7 linked regions of the Homo sapiens genome follow. The protein of the gene in region 3 purifies or fractionates together with the protein of the main gene of each other region. This does not show direct contact. Each region holds a gene or a part of one and is shown on either strand. Other genes may lie near its edges.

The links.
Region 1: the proteins of ZNRD2 (region 3) and FAM120A purify together in Homo sapiens (co-immunoprecipitation; 3 studies listed by BioGRID and IntAct, with this or other methods). This does not show direct contact.
Region 2: the proteins of ZNRD2 (region 3) and SNX33 purify together in Homo sapiens (co-immunoprecipitation; 3 studies listed by BioGRID and IntAct, with this or other methods). This does not show direct contact.
Region 4: the proteins of ZNRD2 (region 3) and MTG1 purify together in Homo sapiens (co-immunoprecipitation; 3 studies listed by BioGRID and IntAct, with this or other methods). This does not show direct contact.
Region 5: the proteins of ZNRD2 (region 3) and SBF1 purify together in Homo sapiens (co-immunoprecipitation; 3 studies listed by BioGRID and IntAct, with this or other methods). This does not show direct contact.
Region 6: the proteins of ZNRD2 (region 3) and PLEKHA5 purify together in Homo sapiens (co-immunoprecipitation; 3 studies listed by BioGRID and IntAct, with this or other methods). This does not show direct contact.
Region 7: the proteins of ZNRD2 (region 3) and ARHGEF39 purify together in Homo sapiens (co-immunoprecipitation; 3 studies listed by BioGRID and IntAct, with this or other methods). This does not show direct contact.

The regions. Positions count from the first base shown.
Region 1 is NC_000009.12:93,514,185-93,517,684, reverse strand, and holds part of FAM120A (constitutive coactivator of PPAR-gamma-like protein 1), read right to left. Parts: intron 2,019-3,500; coding exon 1,918-2,018; intron 1,703-1,917; coding exon 1,416-1,702; intron 1-1,415. UniProt on the Homo sapiens protein: Component of the oxidative stress-induced survival signaling. May regulate the activation of SRC family protein kinases. May act as a scaffolding protein enabling SRC family protein kinases to phosphorylate and activate PI3-kinase.
Region 2 is NC_000015.10:75,654,412-75,657,911, forward strand, and holds part of SNX33 (sorting nexin-33), read left to right. Parts: intron 1-2,550; coding exon 2,551-2,804; 3' UTR 2,805-3,500. UniProt on the Homo sapiens protein: Plays a role in the reorganization of the cytoskeleton, endocytosis and cellular vesicle trafficking via its interactions with membranes, WASL, DNM1 and DNM2. Acts both during interphase and at the end of mitotic cell divisions.
Region 3 is NC_000011.10:65,569,243-65,572,388, reverse strand, and holds ZNRD2 (protein ZNRD2), read right to left. Parts: upstream 1,913-3,146; 5' UTR 1,898-1,912; coding exon 1,879-1,897; exon of another isoform or gene 1,786-1,878; coding exon 1,634-1,785; intron 1,504-1,633; coding exon 1,419-1,503; intron 999-1,418; coding exon 655-998; 3' UTR 501-654; downstream 1-500. UniProt on the Homo sapiens protein: Might play a role in mitosis. Antigenic molecule. Could be a centromere-associated protein. May induce anti-centromere antibodies.
Region 4 is NC_000010.11:133,397,157-133,400,656, reverse strand, and holds part of MTG1 (mitochondrial ribosome-associated GTPase 1), read right to left. Parts: intron 2,223-3,500; coding exon 2,142-2,222; intron 1,488-2,141; coding exon 1,431-1,487; intron 1,129-1,430; coding exon 1,038-1,128; intron 1-1,037. UniProt on the Homo sapiens protein: Plays a role in the regulation of the mitochondrial ribosome assembly and of translational activity. Displays mitochondrial GTPase activity.
Region 5 is NC_000022.11:50,461,536-50,465,035, forward strand, and holds part of SBF1 (myotubularin-related protein 5), read right to left. Parts: coding exon 3,466-3,500; intron 3,383-3,465; coding exon 3,284-3,382; intron 3,204-3,283; coding exon 2,999-3,203; intron 2,907-2,998; coding exon 2,794-2,906; intron 1,898-2,793; coding exon 1,748-1,897; intron 1,404-1,747; coding exon 1,335-1,403; intron 1,183-1,334; coding exon 1,024-1,182; intron 939-1,023; coding exon 670-938; intron 585-669; coding exon 412-584; intron 335-411; coding exon 261-334; intron 184-260; coding exon 1-183. UniProt on the Homo sapiens protein: Acts as an adapter for the phosphatase MTMR2 to regulate MTMR2 catalytic activity and subcellular location. Promotes the exchange of GDP to GTP, converting inactive GDP-bound Rab proteins into their active GTP-bound form.
Region 6 is NC_000012.12:19,373,817-19,376,900, reverse strand, and holds the end of PLEKHA5 (pleckstrin homology domain-containing family A member 5), read right to left. Parts: intron 1,371-3,084; coding exon of another isoform or gene 1,336-1,370; 3' UTR 501-1,335; downstream 1-500.
Region 7 is NC_000009.12:35,662,396-35,666,501, forward strand, and holds the start of ARHGEF39 (rho guanine nucleotide exchange factor 39), read right to left. Parts: upstream 2,801-4,106; 5' UTR 2,775-2,800; coding exon 2,637-2,774; intron 2,456-2,636; coding exon 2,361-2,455; intron 2,098-2,360; coding exon 1,977-2,097; intron 1,732-1,976; coding exon 1,613-1,731; intron 998-1,612; coding exon 927-997; intron 680-926; coding exon 551-679; intron 347-550; coding exon 117-346; intron 1-116. UniProt on the Homo sapiens protein: Promotes cell proliferation.

The sequences.
Region 1 (3,500 bases), on a different chromosome or scaffold from region 3:
CTTGTTGGGGTCATAAAGCTTACTTCTTTTGCTTTTTGTCTTACTTCTTACCTATGTTTCACAGTTTAGAAAGAACATTTCTTACTAAGACAAAAACTGTATTGTACAGACACTTGGACCTTGCTGACATGAGTCACGTTTTACAACAAAATGCACATGCCTTAGAAATCTGGCACATAAGGGCTTCCAAGACCATCAAGCAGTTGTTCTCAAACTTCAGTGTGCTAAAGACTGACTGAGGTGCTTATTTAAAATGCAAATTTGGGGGCCCCAACCAGAGATTCTGATTCAATGGGTACTCAATATATTATCTTGCTAGAGGTTAATTTAAAAATTTGAATATTCAATTGCAACTCTTTACTTCATTTTAGAGTCTTGGCATTGCATATACAGCAAATAAACATTTATTAATTTTATACTTCTCTGCACATACAACAAATCAACATTTATTAATGTTATACTTCTCTGCTATAAACAGGGTATGCATCCCTGGATGGCAGAGAGTCCTTCAGTAAGCTCTGCCCTGGGTCAACAGACATTTATTCCCATTTCACAGATGGACAGAGGACAGAGAGGAAAAGATCACCTGCTTCAGGTGACACACAAGGTAAGAACTGGCATGGAAGCTGACACCTATGTCTCTTACATTTCCTACATCAGAAACAGATGTAACATCAACCAGCCCTGGTTATCTGCGCTGTAAAGTAGAGTTCACACCAAGGAAAAGGAGACACTGACTTAAAGAAAAGAAATATTCTTTCCCTGTTTTTTTTGTTTTAAACATAAGACAATTTAAAGAAAGGGAGGAGTGCAAATTAAAGATTTCCTCGATCAAATTTTAACCAACTATGTATTTGTGAACCCATTTATTCAGGGACACACAGTGTTTAAAATACTCCTCTAAGGAAACAATTCCAGCCTGGGTCTAGGCAGCTTTCTAGGGTTTTGCTTGGGCAAACAGTGTTATTTCCAAAGTGTCCTGTAACCTGCTGAGTTTAGGAGAAGGAGAGGAAATTCAGAGCTCCCTTGATCCAGGAGCCAGAAGATTAATGTTTCGGGGGTCGGCAGGGGGTTGCTGTGACGGGTGTGAGTGGCACCACACCGGACAAATGCCCCCATGTTTTGGTCATCACACAAACCAGTTCTTGTCAAATTCCTCCCCAGAAAGTTTCCTGTGGCTCCAGGCCATGGGGCTGGGATAGTGCAGATTTTAAATCATGGAAACTTCAAGAACATACCTACTCTTCCTCTCTCCTCTCTGTCCAAGGAGCCCCCATCTGAGTACAGACTGACCATCACCCACCTGCAATAAACTACATCTCTGAGCAAAACACCAGCTGGGCTGGCAGGCCAGAAGGCAGCTTCCCCAGGTCACTACCCGCCAGGAAGCACCCAGCGACCCACGCACCACTCACTTTGTCGCCCCTCCGCTGCCCTCGTCGTTGTCGGAAGATGACGATGTAGAAGAGCCAGGGAAGTAGGCGGAATCCACGTGGTTGGGGCTGCCGCTCTGGGCCGGGTTGATGGGCGAGGACCGCTCATACAGCGGCGTGTGCTTCCCTTCGTGAGGAATGTTGCTGTAGCTGTTCTGCTCCGTCAGATTCTTCCCGCTCGTGTCCAAAGTGAGAGGTGCTGGCTCAGAGAGGCTGTACGGGTATGGACCCTGGCCCGGGGCGCCCCCTGGGCTGGGCACCTGTGGGGCCTGAAGCGAAGGGCACAGGTCACGCACACGTGGCCAGCAGGACCCGACTCAGGCCCAGGCTGACGTTTCCTGGCTCATTTTTATTTCAACAAACACTGGCATCTATTTCACGTATCAATTCAAGAGGTTAGGAACTTATTTTAGCATTCGTTGAAATTCAATGCACGCACCCTGTCTGAGACCCGCCACCCGACCCAACGCAGGGAAGGCCTTACCACGGGCTTTGCTTGCAGAGAGGTCTGCGGAATGTTGAGCATCTGAGGAGGAACATGCGGCGGCACCATCCCAGGCATTCCAAACGGACCGGGTCTGGCTGCTTCACCAACACAGAAAGAAAAGAATCACACAGCTGTGAACAGAATGCGTTTTCCAGGGCATCCTGGGGGCCAGCCCATGGCGCCAGGGATCTCACCCTCACCTGGCTCAGACATCGACACCACCATGGGTCCCACTTCTCAGAAATCATTACAAATTGCCATTTCACAGTAAGGAAAACTTAATTTTATGATGCTCCATTTGATGGACTCGGGCTGGGATTCTAACTTTCCAGATTTCTCAGTGAACTTGCCATAGTGGTTCTGCTCTCGTGTACTTCCTGAGGGCCTCGGCTGTCCCTCTGCCTGCAACTTGGTGGGGATTCTCTGTAACTCAGTCTCCCTGCTCAGGGCTGCTCCTAGCCTGAGGTCTCCGTGAAACCAGAAGCCCTGGCAGGCATGAAAGGAACAAAGTCGGACCGAACAGTTTCCTTTACCTTTGTCAAGCAAGAGGACTTTTCTATTTAAAGTACATTGCAACTACCATTAGGTTCTCAGCTAACTAGTGAGTTTTTAAATATAAAAGGAATTGCTTTTCATTGTTCAGCAATTAGGTTACACATTTTAACACATATACAGGATGAGTAATTTGTGATTCTGTGTTCTCTTAAAACATAATTTCATAAACCTGCCTGATGTGTGCTGCCATGTGCTAGTCATCATTCCCACGCTACCTTGCAAAAATGAAGAAATCTGTGAGAGGACTGAAAGCCACATAGAGGAATGGCTGAAGCAGGACAGCAGGACATGGAACCAGGCCAGCCTGAAGCTGGGACAGAAGGCAGGGGCTGGAAGCCTCCCCACTCAACCTCTGGCCTCGCGCGGCCTAACTAAGCACAGGAAGAGAGCTCAGGGGCCACGTCAGCCAACAGAAGTGAATGAGTGAGTAGATGGTGCCCATAAAGGGCTGTTCCAGAGACAGCACAAGACCCGCAGTAACAAGGACCGACTGGGGCCCAAATGATATGCAGGAAGCAGGAGGACATGGGACATGGACCTCTAGGAGCTGCACTCCCTCTCAGAACACTTAGGTGCTGAGGGCCTATGATGTGTCAAGCTGAGGACTGGGCCTGGGGATGAAAGGAGCCCTGAGGCGGTTTAAGTAAGATGCACACTGCTGAAGACACAGAGAAAATAGAAAACCTGTGTGAGACACAACAGATCCACCAGGGGCTTGCACGGCTGCACCATCTCTTCCTTGGGTTTGTTTTAAATGTGGAAGAAAACCAAGCCCAGAGCTTGCTGACTCCAATTTCCCTCTTTAAGCAGTAGATATGCTTCTACAACCTCTTCATCTGAACACCAGTTGATATGGTTAGGCTGCACATCCCCACCCAAATCTCATCTTGAATTATAATCCCCATAATCCCCACGTGTCTAGGCAGAGAGACTAGGTGGAGGTAATTGGATCATAGGGGCAGTTTCTCCCATGTTCTTCTAATGATAGTGAATGAGTTCTCACAAGATCTGATGGTTGTATAAGG
Region 2 (3,500 bases), on a different chromosome or scaffold from region 3:
CAGACCTCCTGCTCCCTCCTGCCCCCAACCTGGGGTGGATGTTAACTGTCTCCAAGAGGCAGGGGCAAGATGGATTGAGGTGGGAGCTTAGGGAATATCCCTGGGACTTGCAGCTGGTGGGCTCCAACCCTCCTTTCTGCATTTTTGGGACCCAGCCTGTAAGAGGAGTGCTGAGGCAGGAGGTCCCCCTGGGTCCTCAGCTCTCAGGTTAAGTCTTAAGTAGAATGTCGGGGGGATGCTGGACAGGCCTGAGCCCTGACTCCCAGCCTGTGGGGTGGGGTGCATTAGCATTAGCTGGTCCTGGCCCCAGAGCTGAGTCACAGGGTGGAGGGGTAACGGAGAACAGGGTGGGGCCTCTGTTTCCCCCCGACCTCTGCAGCCTTTGCTCCCCATCCCTGGCCTCCTGCCTGTCTGTGGATACCTAACCATTGCAATGGGTTCATTCTTACTCTTTGGGCTCCTCATCAGCAAAAGAGGCCTTTCCTTCCTCTAAGGCCATGGACAGGAAAAGTCTATAGATGCACTTCCACTGTGCCAACTTTCTCGGCAGGTGGAATCCAGGCTAGTTCAGTATCTCCTCTTTAGCTAGGTTCCTTCTGCGGAAGTTTAACTCCAGTTTCTTCACCCTGCTGTTTTCTACCTTTCTTCTTACGGTTCTTCCTACTCCTTGGGACCTTCTTGAATCCCTGTGTCCAACGTCTGGGGGCCCCACACATATGCCTGAAGGACCTGGCATGGGCTCCCTGCAGCAGAAGTGGTGTCCGACCCCCAGCTGTGGAGGACCAGGCAGGAAAGAGGCTGGGAGTCCTGGGCAAGTTCCTGCCCCTCAGGGCCTTGGCCTCCTCTGTACAGTAGTAGGATGGAGGTGGAATCGAGGGTTGGACACCTGATCTTTTGGGCCTTTCTAGCTCTGAAGTCTCTTACTGGGTCCTATCCTGGGCCTTGGGGTGATCCCCCTTCTGCTGCCCAGGGCTGGGCTGTTGAGATGGTGCAGGAGGTGGTCCAGGGAAGGTGGCAGAAGGACTGAGTGGGCTGGGAGCTGGGGAATGCAGATTTCTTTTGGGCGCTGTGTGAGCAGCCCTGGAGACTCTCTGAACTTGAGTCTGTTTGCCTGAAATGCTACTATTAGCCGATTAGCCATGCACTTATCAACTAACATGGATGTTGCCCCTTCTAAAGGCATCCAGAGTTATTCCCAGCATGTAGAGCCCTGGGCCTGATATACAGTAAGTGCTCAATGAATGCATTTAGAATGCACTGGACAATTTGAGCCAGGGAGTGAAGAGAATATTATCTAGACAGCCCTCAAGAGCCCTCCTTAAAGGAGAAGTGGGAAAGCATGGGTATTGAGCATGCTATCTGTGTGTAGTGGGTGCGTTTGCAGTGCTCAGGGGTGTGCTGTCCTCTATGCCAACCCTTCCCTGCTCCTAATCTTCTTTGTATGGTGGATTCTCTGCAGCCCTCGGCGACTGAGTGCCAGGCACAGGCAAACTTCCTTCTCTTCCCAGCAACTGTCCCCACTGGCTTAAAGGCAGAATTCGTCAAGTCCCTTTTAATTCAGAACTGAAATTCATTCACCAGCTGCTTGTTCATTCATTCAGATTCTTCTAAATTGGGTCCTCTGCCCAGGTTCATCTCCACCCCCCATCTGTCACCTGGTTATTACACAACCTCCTCGAGTTCCCTGGGGGCTGGGATGAGGAGGGAACAGGGCGTGCATGTCTGGGAGATACACCAGGTGGCCTTTGAAGAGTTGTTTTAGAATCAGCAGTGTGATGGGGGTGGGGGTGGGGAGCCAGGGCACAGGTGACATGGGAGAGACATTCTGTCAGGGGAACTGGGAGAGGCTCCAGTGTAGAAGTGGCACCTGATCGGGGCCATGAATTATGAATAGGAATCCAGGGGGCAGAGGTAGGAAGGTAGGAAAGAGCCAGGTGAGTTTGACGAACATGGGGGTCAGTGTGGAATGCGTGCAGGGGCCAACTCCCAGAGGTGAGGGCCCCCCAGGCCAGGCAGATTGGTGTGGACCTTGATCTGTAGGTAGTGGAGAGCTAGGAAAGGTGCCCAGCTTGGGATACCTCTTTAGATGCTGCAGAGAACCTGTCAGAGGCTGGGGCGGAGGGCAGGGAGACGTGGCGGGGCTGTTGTAGCAGTCCAGTGAGGGACAGGGTTGAATCAGTTCAGCAGGCCTATATCAGGATCTGCTGTGGGCCAGGCCTTGTTCTGGGTACCAGAGACACAGAGAGGTTGAGGACAGGCTCTATCCTCATTGAATTCATAGTCCATCAAGCAGGGCTGTGACTGGTCACATGTGGGCTACTGGTGGCACTGCACATTTGGAGAGAAGATGATGTGCTTGGTTTAGGAGGTGCTGAGGGTGATGGCTTGGGTAACATCCTGGCAGAGACACCCAGGTGGCTGGAATGTGGGTCTGGGGCTCAGGAATGACGTCCGAGTTGAGCTGATGAGGGTGCTGTCTGCCCTCAAGGGTACAGGGAGCACATGGAGATCAGAGCCCTCACACGCTGTCCTCTGCTCTGCCTATGCCAGGCGCCTTCGCCAAGGTGAAGGAGAGCCAACGCATGAGTGACGAGGGCCGCATGGTGCAGGACGAGGCAGACGGCATTCGCAGGCGCTGCCGCGTGGTGGGTTTCGCCCTGCAGGCCGAGATGAACCACTTCCACCAGCGCCGTGAGCTCGACTTCAAGCACATGATGCAGAACTACTTGCGCCAGCAGATCCTCTTCTACCAGCGGGTGGGCCAGCAGCTGGAGAAGACCCTGCGCATGTATGACAACCTCTGACCGCGTGTGCCTGGGCCCCCTCCTTCCCCTGGGCCTGGTCACTGCAGTGTACCCCACTTTCCCGACCTCCCTATACCAGCAGTGACTGGGGGAGGGGTCAGCGGTGGGGGAGATAAGCGGCCTGTCCTGCCTCCTGGGAGAAGGAGCTTTCAAGGAGTCATGGGTGCCCCTGGGAAATTCCCCACTCCTTAGAAGTGGGGCACAGCAGGGGTGAGAATAGAGTCAGGAGCCCTCGAGGCCAAGGCCTGGGCTGCCGGTCAGTCAGTGAAGGTCAGGCCAGGGTCTCAGCCTCCCCTAGAGCCTATTTTGCTTGCTCACCTGGCCACTGCTGCCTTATCCATTCAGCAGACACCGAGGCCTGCTGCACCCTTGGGTCGGATGCTGGGCACCCAGGGCTGTGACATGCCTGCTCTTCAGGAGTCCTCAGTGAAGGTCGGGGTCAGACACAGACAGAGTCAATGCAGTATGACTGATGTTTAAGTGAGGGATTTCTGGAAGCTCATAGAAGGGACCACAGCATTCCACTGGTCAGGGAAGACTCCATAGAGTAGGCAACATTTGGGCAGTGTTTTGAAGAATGACAAGGGCCTGCCAGACAGTACATGGGGGAGAAGGACTTTCAGGGGAGAGGAACAGCATGGGCAAAGTTATGGAGGCATGCAAACATCTCCCTCTTCTCTCCCTTACTTTCCAAGC
Region 3 (3,146 bases):
CGGAGGGGGGAAAAGGCTGAAGGGGGCAGGCGTGGTTTCTTCACGGTTCTTTTTGCTACCCCGTCTCCCCGCCGCGCCCCGCCCCGCCCCCACACCCAAGGAAAATGATCTAACAGTGGAGTCAGGAGACTGGCAAGTCCACACTTGGTGCCTAACGTGCCACCTGACGCTGGGGTCACCACAAACTCCTGTCGGTGTCTGAGTACCTGGGGTGGGCATGAGATGGGATAGGCTGATAGGGTCAGGATGCTCAGGGGAAGGAGGGGAATCTATCAAGGGGATCGGAACACAAAACCTCACTTCCAGGTGGGGAATGGACACCAGATGGCGGAAGAGGCTGCAGAGGTGCTGCCAGAGACAAGGCTAGGGTCCACCCCTCTGGCTGCTACCTTTGAAAAGGCTATGGCTTCTTCCTTAGAAAAGGGGCATCACATAGTCCTCTACCTACTCCCTCATCCTGACTGGGGAAACTGAGAAGAAACAAGCTCAACTCATCTCAGGGCGTCAAGGAGAGCAGAGTGGAGAGGTGAAGAGGCCAAAAGCTGGAAAAAGGTGAGTGGAGCTGGGGCTGGCATGCACACTTGGAACCAGGAAAAAAACAAACCACACAGAGGAACAGCTGTTTTTCTAGAGGGTTTTTCTCAGGGGCTTCTCTTAGTGCTGTAGCTGCTGCAGGCTGCGCAGGGCCTCCGCACATGCGCGGATAAGGCCACACAGCTGGATGCTAGTCTCCAGGGAGGTGCTAGAGCCCAGTTCAGCAGAGGCCCAGGTCAGCTTCTGCAAGAGGGCTGTCTGTGTGCAGGCCATGACATCTGTATTTGGAGGCACAGCAGGAGCAGGTGGCCCCTGGGCTGCCTTGAGTCCTGCTGCAGCTCCCTCACAGTGCTCCGGACGAGGTACTGGGGGCTGGGGCGCAGGTCGAGAGCCCAGGGGGAGCTCTGAGGCTGAGGCCAGCTGGTGCTCCCGAGCTTGGGAGAGGGCAGCCTGGGCATTCAGAGCTAAAAAGAGGAGAAAGTGGGTGGAATGGTCAGGATGCCTGGCCCACCTCAGCCCTGAGCCATCTCCTTTTCTGCTCTGCTCTTTCTGTGCTTGAGGTGTTTTCCCTGTCCCTCTATAAGGCAACTCATCCACTTTCTACTTTGTATCACATTTATGCCCTAGCTTCAATTCTCCATCAGTACTGGGCCTGGTTGAGCTCAGACTCTCGCGCAGTGGCTGGCACACAGGAGGTGCTTGGTGCTCTTATTGAGTTAAGGGTCCTCTTTAGAGCCTAAAGGAGAAATAATTTTACTTCTACCCCACCCAGAGACTCCACTGTCACCTCTCAGCCCTACTGTTCTCGGGCCTCTATCACCACTTAACCACGCTTCCCCCCTAAGCATATCCGGCCCCTCTCCCGGATTATTTTTTACTCTTACCGGGATTATCTTTATCCACGTCTGAGTCGAGTTCCTGACAAGCCACGCAGTAGATTTTCCGCTGTTTGTCTTGGAGGAGGATCGTCTACGGACCAAAAAGCACACGGGGCCGGAATGAGACGCCGGCAATGGGGTCCAGAGGGGAGGGCCGGGGAAGGGCTGAGTGGCCTGGCCCGCGGACCCATCCCCGGTCACTCGCCCGAGTCTCGCCTCACCCCGCAGTCCGCACACGTCTCGCCCAGCATGCGGTAACCGCGCAGCAGATAGTCGCCCATGAGCCGGGAGATGCGATCTTGCCGCTCCCGTCGCGCCTGCAGCACCTTCGTCTCCGCCTCAGTCGGGGGCTCCCAGGAGAAGTCGTCGACTTCTGGGGAAGAGAGGCATAGGGACTGGGGGTCTTGCCGGAGTGGGCTGCCTCCCGTACCTCACAGCCACAAACCCCTGCCGCCCAGGTCCTCACCAGCTCCGTTCAGGGCCATGTTGCCGTTGTCACCGCCGGGCTCACAGGAAGTGACGTCAAAGCGGAGCGCCCTCCGCTGCGGCTCCGCCCGTTCCATAGCTGCCGCGGATCAGGGCGGACGTGACGCCTTAGCGTGGTCCTCAGACCTCGCTGTGCCCGGGGTGGGGCGTGTCGGCTGCTACCGAGAACCTGCTCGGGGGACGCGTCCGTCAACCGGAATCCAGGGGACAGAAGCTTCCGACGCGCGAGGCCTCGGGAGGAGCGTCTCCTTGGTAACTCTCCTCCGGTCGCAAGACCTGGAAGTGGCCTCAGGGGGTCGCCCTTCCTGTCCGTCGTGGATGAAGGGGACCACTTGGCTTCAGAAATCCCCGCTGGCCTCCGCCTCCCCTGGGGTTTCCCTTTCGGCGCAGGCGGGGCAGCGGCGTCATCACAACCATCGCCACCCCAGTAATCACAGCGAGCGGCCCTTTGCGCACGCGTGGAGCCTTCTCAGGCCTCAGTACTTCTCACTTCGCCCGGCAAGGCTGGCCAGGAGGGGTGCATTCTCCCTTTCCGCGTATTTCAAGACCACTCCCCTTCTGCATGCTCGGTGTCCCAGTCTGTCTCCTCGCTGCCTCCCGAGGCCTGGAACTGAAGCAAAGTTCGCCCCGAAGCCGACCGTTCTTTGAAGTTGAAATCCTCAAAAAGCCTGCAGACTGAATAGCGCTGTACTGGGCACGCGCATTGCGCTTCCAGCCGCCCTTGGGTGCTGCGTGCTGGGCCGGGTCGGGTTGGGGCCTTCCTACATACTCTTGCGACCATTAGGCTCTTCTTGGGTGAGTTGCAAGTTAAAATTACCAGGGCTCTCTGAACATGGACCTTGGTGCTTTTTTTCTCTCTCCCTCTTCCGTGTTCTTTTTCAAACGCATCTTCTCCCTTATTAGATTCAGAGAAGCCAGACAGGGCAGGCAGGGGTCCTCAGATGTGCAGTCTGCAGGGCCTGAGGTTGTACACCAGGGCAGTGGAAAAGCAGCTAGGACTTGGACTTTCACAGTTACATCGACATTCTCCTCTTCCGGATGGCACATGCCCCCTCAATCTGACCTGAAGTCCCTTCCTCCTGGCCCCCTCTTCCTTCCACGTAGAACCCCTGGAACTGTCATTCTTGCTGCCTCCTGCTTACGTGGAGAGCCCTGTGTCCCTTTCACATCTCCATCTACCAGTCAGGCTCTTGGGCAGCAGCGTACCTGACTTAGGGCCTGTACCACAAGTCGTTTCTATCAGGCTGA
Region 4 (3,500 bases), on a different chromosome or scaffold from region 3:
TAAAAAATAATACGCTTAAAAATAAACTTAAAAGAATAAATGACTGTAACAATGCTCCAATTAGCACCAAAAACACCCTCTCTGTAAAATAACAGTTCACCGTAGTTTAAAGCCTTCAGATTTGCACATCATGAATGGGTTTGTTAATAAATGCCTTATTAATATGAAAAATGAAGCCAACAAGGACTTGAATTAAACTTGAAAATACTTAAGGAAAAGAGCCCACGGGGCAGTGAAGGGTGCTCGGGGCTCCTGCTTTGAATCAGAGTCTGAGAACAGGCACAGAGGGAGGAAAGGAGCGCCTGCGACTCCGGAGTCCAGGAACCCTCCAGCAAAGGCAAGGCGGACGCCATGGAGGAATGGCCTTGCAGCCTCCCTGCCTGATAATCCAGCCCCGTCTACTTCACACGCTTTGTATTCTCTGGATCAAAGGGATTTTTTTTCTTTTCTTTTCTTTTTTTTTTTGAGACGGAGTCTCGCTCTGTCGCCCAGGCTGGAACGCAGTGGCACAATCTCAACTCACTGCAAGCTCCGCCTCCCGGGTTCACGCCATTCTCCTGCCTCAGCCTCCTAAGTGGCTGGGACTACAGGTGCCCGCCACCACACCCACCTAATTTTTCGTATTTTTAGTAGAGACGGGGTTTCACCGTTTCAGCAAGAATGGTCTCAATCTCCTGACCTCATGATCCGCCCGCCTCGGCCTCTCAAAGTGCTGGGATTACAGGCGTGAGCCATGCACCCGGCCAAAGGGATTTAAATAAATGAACAAATATCAAAGTTTAGAAAAGCCATCTTCATGTTAAAGATTTTAAAAGAGAGAAAAATTAAGTGTGAAATTCACAGAACGACCTGGTCCCACTGTTCAGCCCTCCTGTGAACTGGACTGAACGAGACAAGATGTGCTCTGGGGCTGCGGGGTCAGCAGAAGACTGGCAGTGCTCCTCGGGCACGTCCCCTCCAAGAAAGATGGTGGCATCAGCACATCAGCCACACGCGCCAGTACCTTTCCTGAGGTGATCAGCCGCACGCGCCAGTACCTTTCCTGAGGTGCTGCCTCCGGAGGGAGTTGATGAGGGAGGACTTGCCCACGTTGGGGACCCCAATGACCATGATACAGTACTCCAGGTTCTGCGCAGGCAGAGAGAGGGGTCACAGGGCCCACCGTGGCCGCTAGAGCCTGAGACTCTGCAACCCCACCCAGGCAAGGGGACCCCAGGCCAGGTCAGCTCAGGGAAGAAGGGAGGTTAACGCCGAGGCTCTGCCCACCCAGCGGGGACGGCCTCGGCCCTTTCCACTGAAGAGAATGAGAGGACAAAGGAGGGGCCTCCCTGCCTGGGGCGCTGCGCCTTCTCCTTGGAGAGGCCAGGCAGGAGGGGCTGGCCCATCCCACGCCCGCCTCCCACTCCCAGCTCTGGGCCCCACCAACCAACCTCTTTTCGGTGGTAGCGGTGGCTTCTCCCAATCAGTTCAGTGACCATCGGGATGATCTGCAACAAACACCCACTCATGGAGCCACCCCAGGTCGGACGTCTGTGCACTGACCCGCTCCTTCTGCCACCTCAGAACAGGATTAGGGATTCCAGTGTCTCCACTTTCACATATCCGTTAGGAAAACAGAAACCTCCTATCTGGAATTCTACCCAACATTTCATAGGCAAACTGGGCGTCACCCTTCATCTGGAGGTAGCACACCAAGTATCCGGTGTTGGGAAACTGGAGTTCTGTCCAGGTCACAGATGTCAGACTGAGCTCTGGGGCCGGGGACCACCTATGCCCGTCCCCTCCCATCAAAAACAAGCAGGGCAGACCCGGGGCTTCAGTGACAGCTGTAACTACCTTTTAATGAAGAAACACATCAAGCCAGAAAATTCTACCACATACAACTGGAAACATGAGCTACCTGAGTCTCCAAAAGACTCTGACCACCTACAACCCTGGAATGCGTCTACAGCCTGACCTTGTGCCCTCAGTACAGGGAGACCCACTTGCCCCAGGAGATCGCATCCGTGTGTGGCAGCTGGAAACCAACACCTAGGATCTTTTCCAAAGCTCTGCTTCTTACTAAAGCATAAAACAGTTTATAATGCTCCTCGAACCTACTGAAGCAGAAGCGTCAGAGAGAGCACAGACGAAAAGCCTACCTGCTTGACATTTTCATCCTTTACACAGTTGGTAAAAATGACATTTTTTAGGCCTTCTCCTTCTAAGTGTTGCATAATTTTCTGAAAGACACAAAACATTTCTATGTTACTTTTTTTACTGGAGTCTTGGCTCTGTCACCCAGGCTGGAGTGCAGTAGCACAATCTCGGCTCCCTGCAACCTCCGCCTCCCTGGTTCAAGCGATTCTCATGCCTCAGCCTCCCAAGTAGCAGGGATTACAGGCATGCGCCACCACGCCCAGATAATTTTTGAATTCACTGGCCTTAACATGCAGTGAAACTAGTGCAAAGCAGTATCATATTTCTAAACATCAGTGCTGTTAATCATCTGACCTAAAGTATGACTGATGTTTAAATCAACAAGTCCTTCACTGATTCAGCTGGTTTTATTTAGCTGTCCACGAAGATGACACGGATGGAGAGATCAAACATAAGACACACACCTGAAGCCACACACTCTGGGTAGTAAATGTACTTGGGTGTCCCTGCTCAGGGAGGCAGAAGGCAGGGCCACCCAGGGGCAAGTCTACCTCTCTCCCGATTCTTCAGAAGCACTGGCCTTTCTCTGACCAGGTCAGACACTGCTGTGCCCTATACTAGACGGCCACCCACCAGTCTACAAAAAGTCACATTTTCAAAGGCAGGAGTTGCCACTGATATGACGTAAAAGTACCAACTAGTGAAAACACTTGCGATGATTTAAAAAAAAAAAAAAAACAGGCTGGACGCAGTGACTCACGCCTGTAATACCAGCACTTTGGGAGGCCGAGGCGGGCGGATCATGAGGTCAGGAGATTGAGACCATCCTGGCTAACACAGTGAAACCCCGTCTCTACTAAAGATACAAAAAATTAGCCGGGCATGGTGGCGGGCGCCTGTAGTCCCGGCTGCTCAGGAGGCTGAGGCAGGAGAATGGCGTGAACCCGGGAGGCAGAGCTTGCAGTGAGTCAAGATTGCGCCACTGCACTCCAGCCTGGGCGACAGAGCAAGACTCTGCCTCAAAAAAAAAAAAAGAAAATAAGACACAAGACAAAGAGATAAAAGAAAAGACAGCTGTGCCTGGGGGACCACTACCACCAAGATGCAGAGACCGGTAGTGGCCCCAAATGTCTGGCTGCACTAATATTTATTGGATACAAAGCAAAAGGGGCAGGGTAAGGAGTGTGAGCCATCTCCAATGACAGGTAAGGTCACGTGGGTCATGTGTCCACTGGACAAGGGGCCCTTCCCTGCCTGGCAGCCAAGGCAGAGAGAGAGGGAGAAAGAGAGACAGCTTACGCCATTATTTCTGCTTATCAGAGACTTTCGGTACTTTCACTAATTTTGCTACTGCTATCTAA
Region 5 (3,500 bases), on a different chromosome or scaffold from region 3:
GGGCATCCCCGTGAAGATGACCCGGTACGTGGTGAGGAAGACGGCGCCCTCAGCTGGGAGCAATGCTGGTCCCCCAGCACTGCCCCCCGCGCCCTCCTCACGCCCATCCGGCAGCAGGTAGACGCGCAGGCCGTCCAGCACACACTCCTCACCCGGCAGCAGGCGCGGCCGCAGCAGCTTGGGCTGCTCGAAAACAAGAGCAGGAGCTCAGGATGCAGCCCGGGCCTTGGGCCCCCGCAGCCCCAACGGCCCCCGCAAACCTTCTGGATGGGCGGCAGCCTCCGGCTCTCCCGCTGCACGGCCTCCAGGGTCTCGATGTGCATCTGGACAATGTCTGGGGGAAGACAGTTCTCACACTTTGTGCCCAGCCCCACCCATCCAAGGGGGAATCACCAGCCCAAACCCCCGTACCTGGCACCATGACATGCAGCCCCTTGAGGTGGTCGCTGGTGACCCCACTCTCCGTGCAGACCTTGTCCACAAAGCGGTTGATGAAGCGGACCACAGCCCCAGCTACGTCGCAGGTCTCTGCATCCTCGAAGCCGCTCTCCGTGTCATAGCTCTCGGCCACACTGCCAGCCATGCTGGGCCAGAGAAGAAACTGTGGGCATGGGCCCTGCCCACCACGGCCCCGCCTCCACTGGGCCCAACCCCCAGTCCCTGCCTCACCTGTTGGTGACCAGGCTGTTGCTGGCGCTCTCCAGGTCGCCCAGCCCGGCACGCTCCCGAAGTAGGCGGCTCTTGCTGCTGTCCAGGGGCAGGAGGAGGTAGCTCATGCGGTTGGCATAGTGGATGGCCTGGCTGAACACCGTGCTCTCCTCCTTCTGCACCAGCTCCTGCTGCTTCTCACGACTCAGAGTTGGCCACAAGCGCCGCTGCTCAGAAGCCACGTCTAGGGCAGAGCGCTCGTCCTCCTGGGAAGGTGCCTCCCCAACCTCCTGCCACGGCACCACACGCATGAGCCGGGGCCACGCTGCCCCAGCCCCTAGCCCCCAGCCCCCAGCCCAGGGAGTCCCTGCGCACCTGGGCGGGGGCCAGGTCCTCCGTGGGCTCCAGGTAGAGGGCCCGGATGTGAGTCTGCACATCCCCATAGAACATGGCCTCCCAGAACTGTGGCGTGCTCCACACCACGTGCTCCTGCACACAGCTGTATGCAAACTGCGTCACCCCCGGGCTCAGCTTCTGCAGGAGCCAGGGGAGAAGGTCAGCTGGATGCAGCCAGGAAGGGCGGCTGGGAAGGAGACCTCGGCCACCAGGAAGGGGGGCTGGGAAGGAGACCTCAGCCACCAGGAAGGGGGGGCTGGGAAGGAGACCTCAGCCATGCCAGCACTCACCCGGCAGAAGGCTGTGACCAGAGGCAGCAGAGCCGCCGCAATGCCATGCTCGTCCAGAGAAGTGCAGTCCTGCAGGTAGAGCGAGAGACCGTCAGGACCTCTCCCCTCCCAGGCAGCACTCACCTCCCACCATGCCCCCACCACCCCATAACCACCACAGACCAGCACCTGACACCCTTGGCTCCAGCTCCCCAAGGCTGCCTCAGAGGCTCAATATCAGGAGACCCCAGGCCCCAGCACCTGCCCCCAACAATGGTTCTCTCCACCCTGTTCCCTGCAGACCGAGGACCCCTGCCCACTGGCACAGGAGTCTCTTGCACCGTCTCTCCACTCTCACTCACAGACCAGGGTCTGCCCGCCTGTTCCCGCTCATGCGCCATGAGCCATGTCACTAGCAGGATAAGAGGCCTCACCTGCAGGCAGCAGTTCATCATACGGACGACAAAGTCAAACTGCTGGTGGTCCAGGACCGCACGGTTCTGCTGCACATGCAGGTGCAGCTCCTGGGCGAGGCAGCGGCGGGCAGCTCGCCCCTTCAGGGCCCTCAACACGGCTGGGAGCAGCTGGGGGTGGGGAAAGGAGACACGGGCTGAGGGCACAGAGAAGACCCACTCGGGGCCCTGGCAGGGAGGGCAGCAGGTGTCCAGGAGACCCAAATGCCTTTCAGGTGGGGTGTGCCAGACTCTGGGGCTTTGCCGACCAATAAAGACTAAAACCTCCAGTGGGCCCGACAACTCCACAAGTACAAGTTCACCAGGCCAGACACAAGGACGCAGATGCTGCACCTGTGAGCTGGCAGGGAGGTGCGCTCCGGAGGGAGGCCTTGCGGGCCGGGCCCCCTTGCTCACAGGCTCACAGCTGCCTGGCTGGCTCAGTGACTCGCCTGGCACAGGCCCGGCCACAGAAAGCCTTGGAGTTTGCGTTCTATTGCTACAACGTTCATCACAAAACTGGCCGCCCCAAAGGGACACCATACAGCCAATGAAAAACAAGAGTCTCCAACTGGCCATGATGAAAGACCCCAGAGGCGTTAAGTGAGCACCACAGAGAGCAAAACAGCAGGAGCAAAAAGCTCTGTTTCCATAAGATGCAAGGAACAGGTCACGTATGGAGGGAGCAAGCTCTGTTTTCCATCAAGTACAAAGAACAGGTCGTGTATGGGCCTACCCAATTTAAGGGGAAGGACACAGACGAAACATAATAGTGAAACCTTCTGATTTCTAAAAATGGAAGTACATCTCCCTGGCTGGGTCTCCCGCGCAGGCCCGACCCACCCCTCACTGAGGTCAAGAGAGGAGACCTGGAGCCCACCTACCCTCCGGCCAGCCCAGCCACCTCTAGCTGTCTGTTAGGCAGAGGAGGCCCTGGGGCAGCGTCAGCACTCACAAGGGTGAAGTGCAGCCTGGGTCTCCTCTGAAACCCGCTGCCCTGGCCCGGCTGGAGCCTGCACAGCCCTCACCTTCTTGGCCTCAAGCATTTTCCCCTCAAACACGTAGGAGATGCAGTTGCGCACAACCTCCAGCCGCCGGGCGCTGTTGACATGCAGCCCACTGCACCGCTCCAGTATGGCAGCTGCGGGGACAGAATACACACACTCGGACCCCTGACCCCACGCCCATCCTGGGCCACGCTCGGGGCCTGCCTTCCCCTCCCTCATTACGCACTCATGGGGGGCCCTGAGGGCACGGTGGTCCTCCTCTCGGCCTTCACAGCTGGGGGTGCACCCTGCATCTTGGCTGCAGCCTGGTCCACGATCCACTGCACGGTGCCCTCATCCAGCCGGGGGAAGGGTCGGGGCACCCGTCGCAGGTGGCTGCTCTCACCGGGCCTCTGTACCTTGTGCATCGCCACGGCTGGGTACGGGTTCTCCTGTGGGGAGACGGCAGGTGTGGGGCAGGGGCCCAGGGATCAAGGCGGTACGACGCCCTCCCGTCCTGCTACCCTCGTACGTTCTTGTAGAGCTGCTCTGCCAGTTCCTGGACGTGACGCAGGACACGCTGGGGGTGGTTCTCATCCGCCCGCATCCTTGCCACCTCGTGGGCCACCAGCTAGCGGGGTAAGCAGGAGGTTAGGTAAGCCATGGTCAGGCGGAGCCAGGGCAGGGGGCTGGGAGGGCAGGGTGGAGGTGCACCTCATCGAACAGGTCCGTAGGGCGGTATGGGACCC
Region 6 (3,084 bases), on a different chromosome or scaffold from region 3:
TGAAGAGCGTGAACATCTGCAAAGAATGTATTGTAAGAGAAAATGATCTCTGAGGGTCCTACTTACGATGAAACGGTTTCTAGCTACCCATGTCAGACAAACAGCTGCCTTACACACCTCTCTCAAAGTCCAATCCCTAAACAGAGCAGGACTACTGATGCTTGAAGTTACTTTCTGAAACATGGAAGCAAATAGAAACGTGGTAAAAGACTTCACAAAACTAAACTCCTCTAGTGGTAATGAGCTAATGTAATGTACTTAGAGAAAAAGTCAGAAAAAACTATAGTCTGGTCAAAATTCTGTCATTAAATTGTGGCCAACTCAATTGATCTCTTTGAGCCTCAAGGTCCTCAACTTTGACATGGGAGGGTTGGACCGACAAGGATCTTTTAAGATGTTGTCTAGGATTATAAAATTAACAGAGTACCTTTTCTTCTAGAGGTCTCTTGAGTCTTAAGACTTTCAATTTTGGATGGAAAGAACAAAAATTCTAACACTGATTTAAGAACATCAACATTTATTTAACATGATAAAAAAAGAAATGAGATATGAACATTTGCATTTAAACAATAGTAAGTAGCCTTTAATACATTACATGTGCTCATTGTATAATATATACACAATGAACATAATTACATTTGTACACAAACTAAGTACCGGATTTGGAAACCTGCTTATTGCTGTACACATGTATTCCAATGAAATATAAGCCCAGTACTTCAAAATACCTACACTTTGTTTTTTTTTTTTTTAAGAAAAGATAAGCAGTAACATTTGTGTTTAAGCTGACAGGAGTGTGGCAGTAACTGCTGACATTGCAATCTGACCGAGAAAGAATTATAGCAGAAAACAGGACATACTTCACTTAGCAATAAAATGGCACATTTTAAATACATATATATAAAATTTTTACAAATCAAGTGTGAAACAAAAGCACTGCAGTAGCTAAAATGGGAAGAAAAAAAAGAAAACAAGCTTCAATGGAAATAATAACTAACTTTAGAAAATGAAAAGCAAAAAAATATATATATAAATTCACCTAGACTTAAGAAACATCGAAATCTGGAAATCAGCAACTAAGTAAGCTCTGGAAATAGACTGCACATTAAAAAGCACCTTTACTTATGTGCTCTGAAATCATAGCAGCAAGCTGGTGTCAGAATAATAACCTTGAGATTACGAAGTGTACATATGGGCCATTAAAGCTGTTTTGGAATAAACATTTTCCAGAAGTGATAAAATGATGCTCTGTGACCAAAAGCATCAGAACTATGAATTTCATAGATTTAAAATATACTGTACAATATCTTCTTACACTGCTGAAGGTCCATGTCTTTAGCTTTGAATGGTTTCAACAGAAGTCAGTATAGCTGAAAAATAAGAGAGAGGAAATTACTTTGACACCTGCAACGTTAATTAATTACCATTTCCCAAAGTAACTAAGGGTGACATTCTGTAACAACAGAACTGACAAGCATGGCCATGAAAATCCTAAAATACAATACATCAAAGGATATTTTTCTTCATTTCCATAGCTTAATTCACAAAGCAAAGAAACATAATGCAATTTTTTTTTTTTGAGACAGGGTATCACTATCGCCTAGGCTGGGGTGCAGTGGTATGATCCCGGCTCTCTGCAACCTCTGCGTCCTGGGTTCAAGCGATTCTCCTGCCTCAGTCTCCCAACTAGCTGGGATTACAGGCACATATCACCATGCCTGGCTAATTTTTGTATTTTTAGTAGAGACGGGGTTTCACCATGTTGGCCAGGCTGGTCTCGAACCCCTGGCCTCAACTGATCTGACTGCCTTGGCCTCCCAAAGTGCTAGGATTACAGGCATGAGCCACTATACCCGGCCCCACAAGGAAACATAATGTAATGCAATTCTTCTTCCTTCCTCCTCCTCCTCCTTCTCTTCATTATTATTATTATTATCATCATTTTGGAGACGGAGTCTTGCTCTGTTGCCCAGGGTGGAGTGCAGTGGCACGATCTCAGTTCACTGCAACCTCTGCCTCCTGGGTTCCAACAATTCTCCTGCCTCAGCCTCCTGAGTAGCTGGGACTACAGGTGCACATCACCACATCCAGCTAATTTTTTGTATTTTAGTAGAGACGGGGTTTCACCGTGTTGCCCAGGCTGGTCTCAAACTCCTGAACTCAGGCAATCCGCCCGCCTCGGCCTCCCAAAGTGCTAGGATTCCAGGTGTGAGCCACTGCACCTGGCCTTCTTATTATTTTTGAGACTGAGTCTCGCTCTGTCGCCCAGGCTGGAGTGCAGTGGCGCAATCTTGGCTCACTGCAACCTCCACCTCCCGGGTTCAAGTGATTTTCCTGCCTCAGCCTCTAGAGTAGCTGAGACTACAGGTGCATGCCACCACGCCCAGCTAATTTTTGTATTTTCAGTAGAGACGGAGTTTCAACCATGTTGGCCACAATGGTCTCGATCTCCTGACCTTGTGTTCCGCCCGCCTCGGCCTCACAAAGTGTTGGGATTACAGCCGTGAGCCACTGTGCCCGGCCAACATAATGTGATTATAAATAGCAATACAGAATAAAAAATGTACCGCTGGCAACGGCAACCCCCTTTGGGTCCCCTCCCATTTTAGGGGAGCTCTGTTTTCACTCTATTAAATCTTGCAACTGCAAAAAAAAAAAAAAAGTACCAAACGTAGCTGAATCCAAAAGATCAACAAAATGAGCAAACATTTGCATAACTCCACTAAAATACGTAATAATTATTGAGCTGCCTACATCGTAGTGTCATTTGTAAAGGTTTCCTAAATCCTGCCAAAACCACTAGTTCAGAAAGATGGCATATGCATAATAGGAAGATATGAAATAATACAAGTTTTCATGCCTTTAGTTATTTGTGGTAGTTGCATACCATGAGACTAGAAAATATCCGACAATAATCATACCTCATTACAGTATGCCACTGCTCTTGGAATAAGAAGAAAACAAAATAAAATCCTATAACAATTTAAGGAACCTGGAAATATACTTGAGTTTTAACTCTGAATATCCTTTATTATTGGAAGGATATGTGTACAGTCATAATCTGTTTATTGAATCAAAATATTA
Region 7 (4,106 bases), on a different chromosome or scaffold from region 3:
CCTCTCTCAATGTAGATGGCTCTGTTCCTATGAAAAGGGACCCAGACCAGGGAGATAAACCAGCCCATAAGCATCTGAGACATATTTTGGGTCTAGGGTTCCCACCTATTACTTACACTGAGCAACCCACCACAAGGGCCTCCTGAGTGGCCAAAGACCCTGCTGAGATGACACTGGGCCATGGGGTAGAGGGCCTTGCAGGCAAAGGTGCCACTCCGCAGCAGGTGCAGTGGAGGCCGAGGCTTGGCCATGAGGAGCACATCAGTGAAGAGGAAGAACATGCGGGGCCGAGGCTCCCCATGGGGAGGCACCACTAACAGCCAGCCCTGGCGTAGGAACCAGCGCCCTGGGGGATGGGAGCGCTGTTATTCTGGTGCAGCTTCAAGATACATGGGAATAAGAGGAAAGGGAGGCTGAGAAAATAGGGGTTATGTGCTGGGTCAGTACAGGAAGAAGGGTGAGTAAGAAAAGAGCAGCTGGTCGGCATTTGGAGTTAGATAAAAATAAAAGATGGGGCAGTTGAGGATTGAAGGGGAAGTAGGCAAGCTACCTGAGGTCAGCCCCTTTGCCTGGCGTCCACTGAGCAGAGCCTGGACACGCCGAAGGTGCTGGTCATTCTTCTGTTTCTGACCAATAGTATGGACTCTCTGGGCAGTCTCACTTATCAGTCGGGCAGCCCCTGGAATAACATCTCCCACCTTACTCCCCATACAACTTTGACTTTGGGTGCCATGGTTGTGAAAGAGGTTATTCTGGAAGGGACCAGGGTCAGGGTCTGACTTCTTGAAGAAAAGGCAGAGCAGTAGGGACACTGTATACATGTCAGTGGAAGATAGGGTCATACCAGACATTGTTGGAGGTCAGAATCAGAAAGGAATACAGGAGAGGAAGCCTCCAGCCTGCGTTGCCGAGGAGCAAGAACCTACGTGTGAGCTGTTGATGGTCAGGGCTGTTGGGACCTGTGTTTTCAGCCAAAGCTACGACGAGATTCTCATACCTGGAATTCAACAGTGGGAAGTCTGAGGGGAAGCAGAGCCAGGCAGAATTCCCCCTGCCTGATGTGCAGATCACCCTCTACCCATACTTCAATTGAAGGCCAGGAAAGATCTGCTTCTGGCTACTGTATCCCCTTCTTTCATGTAGGACTCAGAACCAGGCTCACACCACACAGCCCTCTTCCATCCCACACTGAAGAGTCACTGGCAGACTAGCCATACTTCAGGAGGCCAGATTGGAAGATGAAAGTTTATCAACCCAAGGAGGATGCTACAGACAGCCTGACTATAGCCCTTAACTCAGGCTTAACCCAGAGACAGAAATTCTAACCCAGGCCAGCCCCGCATCTGAAACTTTTCCAGAAACCGTGCCTCAGGCCCTAGTACAGGCCCCCTCACTTCAATTTAAAGTTCCACAGTTCCAGCTGAGGGCCTCAGGCTGCAGACCCTGGGTACTCCAATGGGTTCACATTTACTCTTGCAAAAGGTTTTTAGAAGCAATTTGGCTCAGGGTCGAGGCAAGAGTTTGGGATCGACCCCAAGGCATCCCACAAAGCTGAGGGCAGCAGTCATACAAACTAAAAGAGAGAGGCGGCTGGAATCAAGAGTTCACTCACTGCTGGAGCCGTTGCAGAGGCAGAGGGAGCAGGTCCTGGAGCTGAAGGCCCCCAAACTCAGGGCGGCCTTCCTGAAGCCGTACAAACCTCCGGAAACCTTTATTTTTCTTTAGCTGCTCCTGGAGTGAGGGAGAAAGGATTGGAAGCAGGGAGAGAAGCCACTCCTTATATTGCATTCATCTGTATCCACATTCCCAGCCTTCAGTAAGCTGTGCTCCTGAGAGAAACTCTCGTTTCTCTACAAGGAACTTACCACAGAGCTGAGCACCCAGAGGGCTCTATAAATGCAGGAAATGTATGAAGTTTGGGTCTCCAGATGAAGGGGAAAGGTAAGGGGCAAGATTTGAGGTCATCTCCAGGTTACCTGCAGGGTGGTCTGGGACCTCTCTGAGTTGGCAGCAAATTGGTTATAGAGCTCCAAGTGGCGGCAGAAGCCCTCCAGCCCTTGGCCCCAGCATCCTCCTTCCAGGTAGGGAAGCAGCTCCCTGTGTGGGCAAGGACAGCAAAAGGGCAGCTCTAGAACCACTCAAGCACCACCTCATTTAGTTTTCATGAGAATAGCACTAATAGTAGTGCTATTACCCCATTGTACAGATGGAGAACAAGGGCATGCTAAGGCCCTGGGCCAAGGCCACAGGTGAGCTAACTGGCGGACTCCAAATAGAACCTAAGTCTGACTCCAAGCTCTGTGCACGGCCACAGGCCAGGACTCTCCCTCCTTTCCTCTCCCTGTGCCCCTTCCACTCACTGGCTGGCGCCGTAGATGAGCTCCCAGGAGCCAAACAGGGCCTGGCGCTCAGGTGGTCGCAGGGTCCCCTTGGCTTTCAGGATCCCCAAAAAGTACTGCGGAAGGAGAGAACATTGGTTCTTAGCCTAGAGGAAGAGAAGGCTAACGCCAAGCGCCCCCAGAAACCGCAGAAGTCTGCCCAGGCTCCCTACATGCTCCGGGTTACCGACCTCGCAGAGACCCTCCCACACCCTGGGGTCCCTGTCCTATAATGGGAGCGTGTGCCAGGTCCCCCACCGTGGCCACCAGCCCCAGCTGTTCTTGGTAGCGCCGCTCGGTCTCTAGCAGCTCCCGGGCGGTGCAGGCGCGTTTCCGCTCCCAGCGGGCACGCTGCTCTTGCACCGGGCACCGCGAACCGGGGCAGGAGAGCTCCATGCCCTGGCTGAGGGATCGACACTTCCGGCTGCAGTCCGCGGCAGATTCAAATCCCAACCGCTCGCGGGCGGGAGCCGCGGAGGCGGGGCCGGGGAGGGCAGCGCGCAGGAAGGAGCATGCGCGGCGAGCGGCCGGACCGCGCAGGGTCTCTTCTGTCCAGCCCCACCGCCAGAGCGGCGCTTTAGGTGCGCGGCGCCGGCCAAGGCAGGGCAGGGCAGGGCAAGGTTGGGGGCAGGTGTGGAGCCCTCCTCTGAGTGGCACTATGTTGGAGCAGCAGCCTGAACTTTGAGTCAGGAGACGGGCTGCAGATGCTGGCAGGAACTTAATGTCCTATCTGGAGAATTGGGACGGGGGGCGGTCATTACAGTACACATTCTGTCCTGGGCCCATGCCAAATGCCAGGGGGTCAGTTGTTCCCAGAATTGGCTAGGAAAAGGTATAGCCATTTGAAGGAATGATATGAAAGTATTAAAAATGGTGTTGTAAAGAAGCTATCGATATGGGAAAACGCACATAGTAAGTATATTGCTGAGAGGAAAAAAAGCAGGCTACAAAGGTGTATAATATAATCCCCTTTGTATAAAACATATATAAAATGTTGGAAGGCAAAACAATCAAAAGTTAACTCTGTTGCCAGGCACGGGAGCTCACACCTGTAATTCCAGCACTTTGGGAGGCAGAGGCAGGAGGATCACCTGAGCCCAGGAGTTCGAGACTCCATCTCTCCAAAAAAAAAATAAATAAATAAAAAATAAAAATAAAAAGTTAACTGTGGTTTTTATCTCCGGGTAATGGAATTGAAGATAATGTGTTTAACAAATGTGTATTAAGTACCTAATCTGTATCTGTGCCAGGCACTGGATCACTGAAGCTAAAGGGATGAATGGGACAAACAGGGTGATTTTAAAAATTCTCTTATACTTCTGCCTTTCCCAAGTTTTCTACATTAAGCATGCATTACTTTGTAGTTAGAAAAAAAAAGTTATTAAAAAAAACAAAATGTCAGAAACTTTAGGCTCCCTCCCTACTGTTTTGGACTCCTAGGAATCTGGGCCGCAAGCCAAGAACCAGAGGATTGTCAGGGTTCTGAGGTCTCTACCACCTCCCCACCAGCTCTGACATTCTAAGAATTCTAAGAAAGGAATAATGCTGGGCTTAGACCAGGGAGGAATAACTTGAAGGGCTTGGATGAAGGAAGGGGAGAGTTTGGATCAGACTGTACCTTGGGCTTATGTCCCAAGGAAACTGGTGGTGATACCAGATAGGTAAAGGACTGGTTACACTGTCTCAAGTGAATGTGGGACAGTCCACACACTAAGAGCTCAAACATGG